Linked DNA regions of Homo sapiens. The protein of the gene in region 1 purifies or fractionates together with the protein of each later gene. This does not show direct contact. Each region holds a gene or a part of one and is shown on either strand. Other genes may lie near its edges.

Region 1 (3,747 bases):
CCGGCACACCCGCGCCCGGACGCTCCCCGGGGCCGCCCCCGCGACCTTGGTCCCCAGCGGCAGCGGGGCGCGTGGGAGCGCGCTCGGAGCCCGTAGACCCGGACCACCGGGCGGGGCGGGTGAGGGGACAATGGCGGCGCCAGGCCCTAATTGGGGACAGAGGCACCCGCGCGCGGCCATTGTGCGGCCCGGAGCCCCGGAGCCCCCGCGCCCGGCGCCCCGCCATTGGCCGCTGAGCCTGACGTCATGGGGGCTGCAAACGCTGGGCGGGCGGCCGAGGAAAGGGTTATCCGCCTGGTTGCGGGGCTGCCGTGGGGAGCTGCAGCCGCGCGGAAGGGCGGAAAACCCCCAAAGCAGCAGAATTTCTGGAGCAGGGTCGTGGCAGCCCCTCTCCAGCTCCACACCCGGCTCGCAGCGACGCCGCTGCGCCGCACACCCGCCCGGGGGGAGAGAGGCGGGGGCGGGTAGGCCCCTCCAGCGTGCACGGGGTCAGCCGGGGTGACCGAGCGGCGGGAGCCACTGCGGCACAGGGCGCGCGCTGCGCTTTCGCTGCCTCAGCACTTGCTCCTTCGGCTCCCGCCTCCCCCGCCCGCCCCCGCAGATCCCGCGCCCCAGGCCCCGAGCGAGGCAGGCGGGACTGGGGTCCTCCCTACGTTCCTCCCCACAAGACCCCGAGTCCGGGGCGCTTGGGTCCCAGGCCTGGCTCCATTTCTCCCCACACGCCCGACAATGCTGCTGGCTGCCGGGCCGCGGTTCCCCGAGCCGCGCGGGGGAATTCCCCACTCGCGCAGGCTGAGGCATCCCCGGGACCCCTCCCAGGAGACCCAGGCCGGGGCTCGGCCCAGCGCAGCCATTTCCGCCGGCCTCTCCCCCACCTCCCTCCCCCTCCCCCAGCTCCTGGGCTTTAAAAGCCAGAGGCTGGGCCGGGCCGCAGGCAGAGGCGGCTGCGGGCTCTGGAGGCCGGGCCCAGGAGCAGTCCGAGCGCCGAGCCCCGCCCCCGGAGCCCCTGTCCCTCCCTCCCTCCCTCCCTCGGCCCGCCCTCCCTGCGCACCCCTCCCCCCAGGACCCCCGCCCCCCGCCCGCCGCCGCCGCCGCCGCCGCCGCCGCCGTCGCCACTGCCGCTCGCTCCGGCTGCAGAACAATAAAGCAAGCCTCCCAGAGACCCCCGCCGAGGACCCCTGCCCGGCGGCCAAACCCCCGCGGACCGCCCCTCTCCGCCCGCGCCGGTTGAGCGCGCCCGGGCGCTGGCCGCGGTGCTGCCCAGGCCGGCGCTGGCCGCGGTGCTGAAGCTGCCGGCGCTGCCGCTGCCACCGCGTTCTCCGGGCCCGGCGCCGCCGCCCCCGGGGGCATGGGGGGCCGCTGACTGAGGCTCCGCCGCGGCGGCGGGGGGGGGGAGGGGAAGGGGGCCACCGAGCCGGGCCAGCCCTGCACCCACTCGCAGCCTCCAGGCCCGGGACGGAGCCGCTCCCCCCCTCTCCGCCCCCCCAGCCTCCTCCCCCGCCTGTCCAGGGGCGGCACTGCGGGCTGGGAAGCCGGGACCAGAGGAGGGAAGGAAGGAAGAGGAGAGGAGAGAAGAGGAGAGAAGGAAGGAAGGATTGAAGGAAGGAAGGAAGGATTGAAGGAAGGAGGAAGAAGAGGGATCCGGAGGGGCAACGGAGGAGACGCAGGGCAGCAAGGAGAGAGGACACCACTCGCGCGGCAGCATCCAAAGGCCAGAGTGGGGACCCGCGCTGCCTCCGCCGCTCCTCGGATGGTGACGGGGCCCTGCCGCCGCAGCCCCCCCAAGCCCCGGCTCCGCAGGCCCACAGCGCCGGAGCCCCGCAGGAATCATGCCCAGGTCCTTCCTGGTCAAGAAGGTCAAACTTGACGCGTTCTCTTCGGCCGACCTGGAGAGCGCCTACGGACGCGCCCGCAGCGACCTCGGCGCGCCACTGCACGATAAAGGTGAGCGCTGGTCTGAGACCAGGGCGCGGGGCCTGGGGCTTTGCTGGAAGCGGTGGAGGGCCAGAGTGTGGGGGCGGAGGGCAGGGCCCGGGGAAACAGACTGAAGGGAACCAGAAACGGCAAGAGTCTGTGGCTGGAGCCTGGACGGTAGAGGGGAGGAAGGGGAACACAGAGGCCAAGGCTGGGCAGGGAGAGTGTCGACGTTGGACAGAGGGTGGGGAAGAGGATCAGGAACTGAGGTACCCAAACGCACACATGGACCCACATCCTGACCCATGCTGGGACAGACACAGCCGCATGGGCGCTGCCATGACGGGACCCAGCCATGCCGGCACACACAGACCTACACTCAAGAGACCAGGGCCGCCTCGCCACCCTCTCCTCTTCCTTGACTGCACCAGGACACCTGCTAGGGTTAGCTGGGGAATGCAGGGAGCTCCAGGGAGTAGGCAGGGGGTCCAACAGGGCCGCCCACCTGTCAGAGCAGAGGGCCAGCAGAGGCAGCAGCAGTCTCTTCCCTGAAGCCTGGGTCAGGGAGAGGAAGCAGGGAGGAGGCTGTGAGCAAGGGACGCCCAAGGTGTGGGAGGCAGGGGGAGGCTCTTTGTGTAAGGGTGCCCAAGTTCAAGGACAACTGTCAGCATGCAGGAGAGGGGGACAGGAGTGCCAGCAGCATGGGGTGGCAGAGCAAGTGTGACCTGCAGGAGTGTGAGCCTGTGTGGGTCCATGTGACTGTGTGTGGCCATGTGACCGTGTGCGCTTGTGTGTGACCCTGTGTGTGTGTGTGCTTGCCTGTGTGCCACTACATGGGACCATGTGACTCTGAGGCCGCTGTGCACCATGTGACTTGAGAGTGTGTCCGGGGTGACTGCATGTGTGACCCTGCGTGAGTGAGGAGGTGGTGAGTTCGGCACATCAGTGTGCAGCCCACCCTGTGAGGGCACACAAGGGCTGATCATGCTGGGAGACTGGGTGTAGCCCTGAAGGAGGCAGAGCGTCGCGAGGGGCGTGCATTTGTGACTTTGAGGTTATGAGATCCATCTTGTGCCTGGGGAGCAACTGCAGCTACCGGTATAAGTGATGCTGCCCTCCTGCAGCTCGTCCCTGTGAAAGTGGACGCCCTGGCCCTCTCTGCACAGTTCAGGGGCTTGGGAAGGCCCTGAAAGGGGTTAGGGTGTGAGCAGGAGAGGGCAATGTTGAACAGGGTAGGACCCAAGGGTGCAGGATGGTGAGAGGGAGTTCGGAGGAGAAGCAGAGTGCATGGAGGAGCAGGGAGGGCAGGGTCAAGTCCAGTGGGTGGCCGGAGAGCTGAGGGAGGTGCTGGTGAGGCCGGAGGGAACTGGGGGAGGGAGACGTCTTCAGGGCTTGTTGGAGGAACCAGAAGGCCAGAGGGGGTCAACATCAAAATGGAGCGCACGTTCTGCAGGCCAGAGGGAGAGCCGGCCAGGACCCCGGAGAGGTGGGACAGACGGGGTCCCTGGGCCGGCAGTCCTGGCTTTGTGCGCCGCGGGTCTGCAGTGTGTTGCATAATCAGGGAAAACTGCTGAAGTGGGGAGAACCCGAGGGGGAGGGGAGGGTGGGTGGGGGAGGAGGGAGAGGGAAGCGCCGCCCCTCCCCCCTGACCTTGAGGCTCCGCGGAAGGGGGGCAGCCGCGCCCGAAGACGCGCCTCTCTCCTCCTCTCTGCGAGGGTGGGGCGGCGGGGGCGGAGCGTGGCCCGGCCCTGTCTCATCCTCTCCTCCCCTCTCTTCCCCTCCCTGCTGTCTCCATCCTCCCTGCCCGGCGGTCCCTCGGCCTCCTCTCCTTTG
Region 2 (3,647 bases), on another chromosome or scaffold:
TCTCCTTTGCTTAGACAAACAATATTAGTGGTCTCCTAAAGAGGAACTATTGAGGGAAGGGGTCCAGCCATGTTACAGCAAGAAATCTCAGCAAGACACAACCTAGCTTTTCTGGTGGGCAATGCAGTAAGGCATCCCTACAGCCTGAAAACTGTACATATTCTTTAACCCAGTAATTCCTTATTAAGGAATTTATCCTAAGAAAATAATAGAAACAAGTCCACAAGACATAAGTGCAAAGATGTTTATCCTACTTCTTAAAAGCAGAAAAGTGGAAGCAATCCAAAAATTCTAAACTCCAGTAACTACAACACCAAGAAGTTGATTTTTTAAAGTCATGAACCAAATCTATTACATGAAAAGGCTCACAAAGGAAAAGCAAATATATTTACTGAGTTTTTAAACAAAATTAAATTTACACACACCTACATTTACTTAAATGGAACTAATATTCAACCAGTACATTCTAATTCAGCCAATCTGCTAATTAAGTCCACTGTCTGGTTAGTGCCCTGTGTCCTACCAATCTCTAAACATTTTTACTATCTCCCTGTAACATACAAAGAAAAAGAGTAAAGGAATATATAACAAAGATGAAAAGTAGTTACTTACTGGTGAGGGGTTCACAGTGGTTTTCATTTTTTTCAAACCACTTATCAGTATGTCCTAAAATATTTATATGCTACATTTACGATTAAGTTATTGGAAGAAGCTTAGAAAGATCCTAAAATTCCATCCAGCCCAACTACAAATCATTACAGTATTAGTGAAATTATTAAGAAAAGGGAAATTGAAGTAATTAGACCAAAATTTATTTTCACAGTGGAATCTTTCATTCCAACTTCACCTAAAATCAGTCAGAACTTAATATTTTTCTACATGAATATATCACAACTAGAGTCCTAAGTTGTATCAAAATTAATTTTCCATTAAAAAAAAACTGGCTTTAACCATGAAGTTTCATTTAAAATAGGCAAAAAAAAAAATAAGACCAGTGTAAGCAGCATGAATTTAAAGGTCACAAAACTACAAATCCTCACCCAAATACATATTCACTAACTAACCTCTGTAATATTCTCTTTATAATTACTATTTTTCAATATTTACTATTTAAATAGTCACTTACTGATATGGTTTGACTCTGTGTCCCCACCCAAATCTCATCTCAAATTGTAATCCCCACAAGTTGAGGGAGGGAAGTGACTGGATTATGAGAACGGTTTCTTCCACACTGTTCTCATGATAGGGAGTGAATTCTCACAAGATCTGATGGTTTTACAAATGGTAGTTTTTCCTACACTCACCCACGTGGTCTCGTGCTGTCTCTCTCTCTCTCTCTGCCCCCCATAACCTGCCTGCTGCCATATAAGACGTGCCTGCTTCCCCTTCTGCCATGTTTGTAAGTTTCCTGAGGCCTCCTCAGCATTCAGAACTGTGAGTCATTTAAACCTCTTTCCTTTATAAATTACCCAATCTTGGGAGGTGCTTTATAGCAGTGTGAAAATGGACTAATACACTTACCTATGATGTCTTCTTATCTCTGCACATTCTACTGCCATCCCAAATATAACAGCACTTGCTGGTATAACTTTCCCATACTTTTCACAATTAGCACTTTCACCTTTGGTCTAAAAAAAATAACAATAAGAATTATGTTATCACATGTATGTAAAAATGTGTGTGCATAATGATAAGCTATGAAAATATAATTTAAAAAACCTAAAAAGACAATAAGTAAGGATAAAGTAAGTTAAAGGTTTTTTTTTCTTCCTTAAAAAATATTTTTGGGCTGGGCACTGTAGCTCACGCCTGTAATCCCAGCACTTTAGGAGGCCAAGGCAGGCGGATCACGAGGTCAGGAGATCAAGACCATCCTGGCTAACACGGTGAAACCCCATCTCTACTAAAAACATAAAAAATTAGCTGGGCGTGGTGGCACGCGCCTGTAGTCCCAGCTACTTGGGAGGCTGAGGCAGGAGAATCGCTTGAACCCAGGAGGCAGAGGCTGCAGTGAGCCGAGATCACGCCACTGCACTCCAGCCTGGGCTACAGAGCAAGACTCCATCTTTAAAAAAAAAAAAGTATTTTTGGCCAGGCCTGGCAGCTCACACCTGCAATTCCAGCACTTTGGAAAGCCAAGGAGAGAGGACCACTTGAGGCCAGGAGTTTGAGACCAGCCTAGGCAACATAGCAAGACCCTGTCTCTACAGAAAAAAAATGTTTTTTTTAATTAGCCAAGTGTGGTGACATTGCGAGGCTGAGGTGGGAGGGCCACTTGAGCCCGGGAGTTTGAGGCTGCAGTAAGCTAAAAAACGTGCCACTGTGCTCCTACCTGGGCAAGAGAGTGAGACCCCATCTCAAAAAAACAGAATAAGTATTTTCATTGCTATATATGTATGAATATATATATTTTTTTCTCACAATACAAATGCAAAGGATACAAGAAAAGAGGGAGGATGGGGGGGAAAGGACTGTAAGTCTGCATAGAAAAAAAGACTTGGGTATGACTTTGATCAAGAAATCAGTATCAATACCTACTTAAAAAATAAATTGCTTGGCCAGGAGCGTTCGCTCACACCTGCAATCCCAGCACTTTGGGAGACCAAGGCAGGTGGATCACTTAAGGCCAGGAGTTCAAGACCAGCCAGGCCAACATGGTGAAACCCTGTTGCTACTTCAAAAAAAAAAAACTGCTCTTTTCAACCTTTAACTAGCAATTTTAAATCCAAATAATTTTCTGTTAATATTGAATTTTTATTACATATTAAAATCCTTTCATTGATAACACATATCATATAAACCAAATCAATGATTTGTGGGCTACAATAGAGGATTTCAATGCAAAATATAATTTGGCAATTATAATAGTCCTGTCCAAGCCATAGCCTGGGTTCAACAGGTACCTGAAAACAGAACCAAACCAGCTATTACTATACTCCCTTCTGATAATTTGCCAAAATTCTAGGCAGTGAGGTCTGTAAGACTGAAAGTACCTCCGTTTTTCAACCCTACTCAAGAATTCCATAGTCAGTCCGTCCATAAAGTAATCTCAATTCCTATGAATTCTTCCCTGGAGTATTTTTGCCTGTATATCTCATTCAGGCACATAATTATACATTGAATCATGTTGTTAGTAAATGTTTTTATGTTGTTTTGTTTTGTTTTGTTTTGTTTTGTTTGAGACGGAGTTTCGCTCTTGTTGCCCAGGCTGGAGTGCAATGGCGTGACCTCAACTCACTGCAACCTCCACCTCCCGGGTTCAAGCGATTCTCCTGCCTCACCCTCCCAAGTAGCTGGGATTACAGGCATGCGCCACCACACCCGGCTAATTTTGTATTTTTAGTAGAGATGGGGTTTCTCCATGTTGGTAAGGCTGGTCTCGAACTCCCGACCTCAGGTGATCCACCCACCTTGGCCTCCCAAAGTGCTGGGATTACAGGCATGAGCCACTGCACCCGGCCAGTAAAAGTTTTTTGCATAGATTTCTTTCCAACCACACAGTATGTACACCTTGGCAATGGAAAATATATTTCATATTGTTTTGTAAATATACTAAGGATTCAATAAATCTCTGATGAAATAACGAATTCTTAATCAGTTGTAAGTATTTTCATACTGCTTACCTTTGGCTGTAAAAGTAAATGCTC

The links. The genes of interacting proteins can lie anywhere in the genome.
Region 2: the proteins of SCRT1 (region 1) and PRMT9 purify together in Homo sapiens (affinity purification with mass spectrometry; one large-scale study listed by BioGRID and IntAct). This does not show direct contact.

What each region holds. Positions count from the first base shown.
Region 1 is NC_000008.11:144,334,252-144,337,998, reverse strand, and holds the start of SCRT1 (transcriptional repressor scratch 1), read left to right. Parts: upstream 1-1,516; 5' UTR 1,517-1,829; coding exon 1,830-1,944; intron 1,945-2,807; exon of another isoform or gene 2,808-3,012; intron 3,013-3,747. UniProt on the Homo sapiens protein: Transcriptional repressor that binds E-box motif CAGGTG. Can modulate the action of basic helix-loop-helix (bHLH) transcription factors, critical for neuronal differentiation.
Region 2 is NC_000004.12:147,667,018-147,670,664, forward strand, and holds part of PRMT9 (protein arginine N-methyltransferase 9), read right to left. Parts: coding exon 3,624-3,647; intron 1,629-3,623; coding exon 1,522-1,628; intron 1-1,521. UniProt on the Homo sapiens protein: Arginine methyltransferase that can both catalyze the formation of omega-N monomethylarginine (MMA) and symmetrical dimethylarginine (sDMA). Specifically mediates the symmetrical dimethylation of SF3B2.